Homo sapiens: one gene and its partner. The protein of the gene in region 2 interacts with the protein of the main gene of each other region in a biochemical or structural test. Each region holds a gene or a part of one and is shown on either strand. Other genes may lie near its edges. The genes, in order: DISC1 and DRD2.

Region 1 (3,817 bases), on a different chromosome or scaffold from region 2:
CTTTTTCTTTTTTTAAAATCTAAAAATTTTGATTGGAGAAGGATTAGAGACTAAATTGTTGATATTTGAATTTTATTGTGGTTTTGGTTAAAGTTTGATGCAGGACCTTCAGAGCAAAGAGAGGGTACAATGGTGACCTTTAAACAATATATATATTTTTTGAGACGGAGTCTCGTTCTGTCGCCAGGCTGGAGTGCAGTGGCACGATCTCGGCTCACTGCAACCTCTGCCTCCTGGGTTCAAGCGATTCTCCTGCCTCAGCCTCTCGAGTAGTGGGATTACAGGCGCCCACCACCACATCCAGCTAATTTTTGTATTTTTAATACAGACAGGGTTTCACCATGTTGATCAGCATGGTCTCGATCTCCTGACCTTGTAATCTGCCCGCCTCAGCCTCCCAAAGTGCTGGGATTACAGGCATGAGCCACTGCGCCGGGCCCTTTAAACAAGATTTAAAGACCAGCACACAAAGTTTCTGAGTACAAAAAAAGGTAATATTTTAGGTTAGGGTCATTAGACCAGAATTAGAATCATTCTTTTTTTTTCTTTTTTTAATTAAAAAAGATGGGGTCTCCTTATTTTGGCCAGATTGACCTTGAGCCTCAAGCAACTTCTGCCTCGACCTCCCAAAGTACCAGGATTACAGATGTGAACCATTGCACCTGGCCAGAATCATTCTTTTGATAATAATGATGGTAATTGAGTTTATATGCTGTGTTCTCATGAATCCAAGCAGAGCCCACTGTTTCCAGAGATTCCCTTGGCAGCCACCCTGGGTTGAGGAGGGTCCCCTCCTGGCACAGCTGGAACCACCGGTGAAGAGCCATTTTTCAGTCAGCACCGTTTAGTAATATAAGACTTTTAGCCTCGAGGAGTCTTCCGTTGTTAGTTCCTAACTTTAATGACTTTGTGGTAAAAATTCCTTAGCGAATGACTTCTGTGCAACAATCATGTAATTTTTAAAATTCCAGATGCTTTAGCCGTTCAGAATCCATTTTTTCTTTCAAAACCAGAGTTCACCAGCTGTTTCTCTTGAGCGAAGACTTTGCAATGAGCTTTCAAATGTTCACACCAAGTAGAAGCAGGAAGGGAGAACTGTGGCTGGGCAATGAATGAAATACTGACATTTAGCTGTAGAAGGTAGGCAGGGGCTCACATGGTGTGCACAGCCCCTTATATGACTACTGGTCCTGTATCTGCTTCCTTTCCCTGCCCCATTTCCCCTTTGGCTTTTTGTCATGACTCAGAAATGGATGCTAGACATTATGGGGCTCCCTCCAGTCACTCGGGTCACTCGTCACAGACTTATAAACAGAATCACAGAACTTATTGTCAGATGAAGCTTCAAAACACCAGTTGGCTAAACTCCTTGTGTTCTGGCAGGTAAGATGTCGGCATCCTTATTTAACAAATGATGCTACTGAGAACTATGTATGCAGAGACATAGTCTCAAAATAAGTGCAGTCATGCCTCGCATAATGACGTTTTGTCAATGTCACATATGTGAGAGTGGTCCCATAAGATTATACTGGGCTGTCAATTTCCTAATGCCTAGTATTTACTATACATTTTAATGTTATTTTGTGTACTTCTACTTAGTAAAAAAAAGTTAACTGTAAACCCGCCTCAGGCAGGTCCTTCAGGAGGTATCAGAAGAAGGCATTGTTGTCATAGGAGATGATGGCTCCATGCGTGTTTTTGCCTTGAAGGCCTTCCAACGGGACAAGGTGTGGAGGTGGAAGGCAGGGATAGTGATGATCCTGACCCTGGGTAGGCCCAGGCTAGTGTGTGTGTTTGTGTCTTAGTTTTTAACAAAAAGTTTGAAAAGTAAAAAAATAAAAATTAAAAATAGGAGCTTATAGGATAATAAGGATATAAAGAAAAAATATTTTTGTACAGCTGCACAATGTATTTGTGTTTTAAGCTGTGTTTTTATAAAAAAGTCAAAAAATTAAAAAAATTTAAAAATTATTATATATAAAGTAAAAAAAGTTATGGTACGCTAAAGATAATTTATTGTTGAGAAAAAAATTTAAATGAATTTAGTATAGCCTAAGTGTACAGCGTTTATAAATACAGTAGCATGAAATTATGTCCTCAACCCTCACGTGCACTCACCACTCACTCACTGACTCACCCAGAGCAACTTCCAGTCCTGCAAGCTCCATGCATGATAAGCCTCCTATAGAGGTGTACCATTTTTCATCTTTTATAGTGTATTTTTACTGTACCTTGTCTATGTTTAGATATGTTTAGATGGAAAAGTACTTACCATTGTGTTACGGCTGCCTACAGTATTCAGTACAGTAACATGCTGCACAGGTTTGTAGCCTAGGAACAGTAGCTATACAATATAGCTTAGGTGTGTCATAGCCTATACCATCTAGGTTTTTGTGAGTACACTCTATGGTGTTTGCATGACAAAATGACCTAATGACACATTTCTCAGAAAGTGTCCCTGTCAATAAGTGATGCATGACTGTGATTGAAATAAGTAGCCCCACATTATTTTTCTCATGTCAACTTCAGGTTAATTTTCCAGCCACGTGGCCTTGTGCTTGCTCATCATAAAAAAATGTGGATAAAATTCTACCTGTTAAGCCACAACATTTGCCTGTCATGGGTGGACATTTACCGTTTATTTTCAGAGTTCAAAGTTTGAACTCTCAGAGAAATGCAAATAAGACAGTAAACTCCTCGAGGTGAGGAATGGCAATCTCTGAAGATAAATCATATATTTATTGTACAGTATTGAATGTTGTAAGTGGCAGTAGAGATCATGTAATCTGGCCTTCTTCTTTTACAGGTGAGAAAAGTGAGAAACAGCAGCAGAGTGATTGTTAGAACCTGGCTCCTCTTCTTTTACTTAGAACTGTTTTCATTAAGTTGTGTTTCATTTCATAGTTCTGTATAATTCATCCCTGCTTAAGATACATTAAATGAATTGAACTGAATCCCTTTTTTTTGAGCTATGATGGCTCTTAAAAACTTAGATTTTCAGCCAGGCGCAGTGGCTCATGCCTGTAATTCCAGCAGTTTGGGAGGCCAAGGTGGGCAGATGACCTGAGGTCAGGAGTTCGAGACCATCCTGGCCAACATGGCAGAAACCCATCTCTACTTAAAATACAAAAATCAGCTGAGCATGGTGGCGTGTGCCTGTAATCCCAGCTACTTGGGAGGCTGAGGCTGGAGAATCGCTTGAACCTGGGAGGCAGAGGTTGCAGTGAGCCAAGATCATGTCACTGCACTCCAGCCTGGGCTACAGAGAGAGACTCCGTCAAAAAAACAAACAAACAAAAAACCACGTAGATTTTCAAGTAATTACTATTGTTACACTAAATGTCAATGGATCCTTAAGAATCTATTTGTTCATGAATTCATTATTTATTCATTCAACGTTTATTGAGTGGCTACTTGGTTCAGAATTAGAATTAGCATGACAGCCACACATTAGAAAGGTATCACTTTTTGACTAAATTAAAAACTTGCTAAAAATAGTTATCCATTGATGGAATAGGCTACCCCGAAAGGCAGAGAGCATTTTGTCATTGGAAGTATGTAGGGCAGTGTGGATGACTCTAGGGTGACTGTCATGAGGGTTCTGCACTGGGGAGGGGGCTGCGTTGGATGATGAATGGGAACCCTTCCAGTGCTAAGATGCTGTGATCGTTGTCCTGCAGGATTGGGATTGTGCAGGATTTGAGCTACTGTGTAAATTTCCTATTCCCTGCTCATTGGGCTTCCACATTTTGCTTCCTTCCCTTGCCCAGGTGGTTCCATTTCAGGAAGCCTAGATAGCTTCTTTGCAGTCATCTGC
Region 2 (3,817 bases):
GGACAGGGGCAATCCTGCAGGGGCTGCCATGGGTCCTGGGTCCCATGCCTCAGTGACATCCTTGCCTCCCTGGCAGGGTGACCCTGTGGTGTTTGCAGGAGTCTTCAGAGGGGGAAAGGGAGGGGCCAGTGAGATGGGTGGCTGATGCCTGGGAACTTGTCCGGCTTTACCCAGAGCCCTCTGCCTCTGGTGCAGGAGGCTGCCCGGCGAGCCCAGGAGCTGGAGATGGAGATGCTCTCCAGCACCAGCCCACCCGAGAGGACCCGGTACAGCCCCATCCCACCCAGCCACCACCAGCTGACTCTCCCCGACCCGTCCCACCATGGTCTCCACAGCACTCCCGACAGCCCCGCCAAACCAGAGAAGAATGGGCATGCCAAAGACCACCCCAAGATTGCCAAGATCTTTGAGATCCAGACCATGCCCAATGGCAAAACCCGGACCTCCCTCAAGACCATGAGCCGTAGGAAGCTCTCCCAGCAGAAGGAGAAGAAAGCCACTCAGATGCTCGCCATTGTTCTCGGTGAGTCGGCCCTGGCTGCTGGCCACAGCCCGGTCTGTGAAAGGTCCCATTCCCTGCCATGTCCTTCCTAACCATGGCTGCAGGATCATGGGGCTAGCATTTCCTCAGGCACAGGCCAAGCCCATTGACATACAGACAGCCCTATTAGGTAGATTCTGTAATTGTGCTCACTTTACAGATGGGCAAACAGAGTTTTAGAGTGGTTATAAAACCTGACCAAGAGGACCCATGGTTTGAACTCAGGCAGTCTGACTCCAGAGTCTGGAAATTTGACTAGTCTATTATGCTGGCACCAGAACCTCATGGGCCTATGTGCCCAGGAAAGTCACTTTCTCTCTCTAGGCTCCTCATCTGTAGAGTAGGTTACTTCTCAGGGCTGTCATGGCAATCAGTTGGTGAAAGCATTTTCTAAACTACAAAGCACTATCCATATGTAAGTGTCACTATTATGGTTTTTATTACTATTGCTCTTTTTGAGGAATTGGGAAATTCAGTTCACTTGCACTCAAACAAGACTCCATGGGACCAGAGCTGTGAAAAATAAATGAGATGTTGGGGAGTGGCCCCCAATCTAAATGAAAAGCATCCCTGTCCATAAAGCAGGATTTTTCAATAGAAGTCTAGAAAACCACATAGTAAAGGTCAAAACCCAAAAGGTGGACTGATATGGGTGGCTGGGAAAAGGAGGGTCCCCTGTGACTCTGTCTTCCAGGAAGCACCTGAATCCCCTTTGACTGCCGGATGATCCTGGGGCGTGAGTGGGGCAGCTGTTACCTCCCTTCTTTTATGAATGAGAGCACTTGATCCCATGGGACTACTCACGATCATGGGACTGGGATATGGTAGGCTAGGATTGGAGCCAGGCCCTCTGCTGCAGTCCATAGGGGCTCAGCTCTGTGGCCCTACTCTTCCCAGACACCATTCAGTCTCCAGGGATGCCTCCTGTGCCTGTAGGGCATTCCATGTACACATTGCTTCCAGGATAAATATCACACCTGTGCAGGAGGTCCTGGAAAAAGTGCACCTGAGTTAGGTGAGCAGAGCAGGTAGGTGGCTGCCCTGGGTGAGAGGGCATGGTTCAAGGCAGGGACTAGCAAGGGTGTACCCACCAAGACTGGGGAAATTGGGGGAAGGCTAGAGCGAGATCATCTGGGGACCTGGATAGACCGGAGTTCAGCTCTCAGCCTCGCTGCTCAAGAGTGAATGACCTTGGGTATATTGCAGAGCTGTTGTGAGTGTTTTTCTTATGTACCTTATGAGGATGCTATAAGAACTAAGTGGCATGGGTCTATAGCCCTCAAAGATGACCTGGAAGTAGAGTAGATATTTCCATTTCTACTGGCTAACCTGGGTCAGAATGGTAACCTTTTGGATTTATTGTTAAACCATGTACCCTTTTCTAGGAGGTGGGAAAGGGACAAATGAGGGAAGTGAGGCTGAAGGAGCTGAAGGGATACTTCACTGCAAATGGGTGTCAGAGGCAGGTCTAGGATCCAAGACCTGGACTCCTCCTACAGTGCTTCTGTGGCTACAGCCCACCGTCTTGGCATACGAGCCAGGGCGCACTGGGTGTGGGTGTTCCCAGCCGTGCCTCCCCGGCTCTGGGGACCAGCCTGACCATGCCCTCTCCCCCAGGCGTGTTCATCATCTGCTGGCTGCCCTTCTTCATCACACACATCCTGAACATACACTGTGACTGCAACATCCCGCCTGTCCTGTACAGCGCCTTCACGTGGCTGGGCTATGTCAACAGCGCCGTGAACCCCATCATCTACACCACCTTCAACATTGAGTTCCGCAAGGCCTTCCTGAAGATCCTCCACTGCTGACTCTGCTGCCTGCCCGCACAGCAGCCTGCTTCCCACCTCCCTGCCCAGGCCGGCCAGCCTCACCCTTGCGAACCGTGAGCAGGAAGGCCTGGGTGGATCGGCCTCCTCTTCACCCCGGCAGGCCCTGCAGTGTTCGCTTGGCTCCATGCTCCTCACTGCCCGCACACCCTCACTCTGCCAGGGCAGTGCTAGTGAGCTGGGCATGGTACCAGCCCTGGGGCTGGGCCCCCCAGCTCAGGGGCAGCTCATAGAGTCCCCCCTCCCACCTCCAGTCCCCCTATCCTTGGCACCAAAGATGCAGCCGCCTTCCTTGACCTTCCTCTGGGGCTCTAGGGTTGCTGGAGCCTGAGTCAGGGCCCAGAGGCTGAGTTTTCTCTTTGTGGGGCTTGGCGTGGAGCAGGCGGTGGGGAGAGATGGACAGTTCACACCCTGCAAGGCCCACAGGAGGCAAGCAAGCTCTCTTGCCGAGGAGCCAGGCAACTTCAGTCCTGGGAGACCCATGTAAATACCAGACTGCAGGTTGGACCCCAGAGATTCCCAAGCCAAAAACCTTAGCTCCCTCCCGCACCCCGATGTGGACCTCTACTTTCCAGGCTAGTCCGGACCCACCTCACCCCGTTACAGCTCCCCAAGTGGTTTCCACATGCTCTGAGAAGAGGAGCCCTCATCTTGAAGGGCCCAGGAGGGTCTATGGGGAGAGGAACTCCTTGGCCTAGCCCACCCTGCTGCCTTCTGACGGCCCTGCAATGTATCCCTTCTCACAGCACATGCTGGCCAGCCTGGGGCCTGGCAGGGAGGTCAGGCCCTGGAACTCTATCTGGGCCTGGGCTAGGGGACATCAGAGGTTCTTTGAGGGACTGCCTCTGCCACACTCTGACGCAAAACCACTTTCCTTTTCTATTCCTTCTGGCCTTTCCTCTCTCCTGTTTCCCTTCCCTTCCACTGCCTCTGCCTTAGAGGAGCCCACGGCTAAGAGGCTGCTGAAAACCATCTGGCCTGGCCTGGCCCTGCCCTGAGGAAGGAGGGGAAGCTGCAGCTTGGGAGAGCCCCTGGGGCCTAGACTCTGTAACATCACTATCCATGCACCAAACTAATAAAACTTTGACGAGTCACCTTCCAGGACCCCTGGGTAGAAGGCAGCAGTGCCACTTCTGTGCTTGGCATTCAAGTATAGCAAGACCCCTGTGTCTGCAGGGTCTAACCCAAGGGAAGCCAGGTTGCCCCCACTGCTCCACCTCCCCTGTTGCAGCTCCTGCTTCCTCTGAAGGACTCATCCTTTGCCCTCTTACCCACCAGGGCAGAGAAGGCTCTGTGGAAAAGGTGGCCTTGGATGCACTGGCATTGCCTGTGTCTGCCTATGTCCCTTGCCCTGTCTTCTGTCCCATGTCAGGATCCCCTTCCTCTAGGGCAGGCTGGGAGAAGCAGGGAAGGCCCTGACCACTGCGGCCTGGACAGTTCTCCCTCC

What was found.
Region 1: the proteins of DRD2 (region 2) and DISC1 interact in a biophysical measurement, tested with the Homo sapiens proteins (one study listed by IntAct).

Annotation. Positions count from the first base shown.
Region 1 is NC_000001.11:231,629,790-231,633,606, forward strand, and holds part of DISC1 (disrupted in schizophrenia 1 protein), read left to right. Parts: intron 1-3,817. UniProt on the Homo sapiens protein: Involved in the regulation of multiple aspects of embryonic and adult neurogenesis. Required for neural progenitor proliferation in the ventrical/subventrical zone during embryonic brain development and in the adult dentate gyrus of the hippocampus.
Region 2 is NC_000011.10:113,409,262-113,413,078, reverse strand, and holds the end of DRD2 (D(2) dopamine receptor), read left to right. Parts: intron 1-195; coding exon 196-523; intron 524-2,158; coding exon 2,159-2,352; 3' UTR 2,353-3,474; downstream 3,475-3,817. UniProt on the Homo sapiens protein: Dopamine receptor whose activity is mediated by G proteins which inhibit adenylyl cyclase. Positively regulates postnatal regression of retinal hyaloid vessels via suppression of VEGFR2/KDR activity, downstream of OPN5.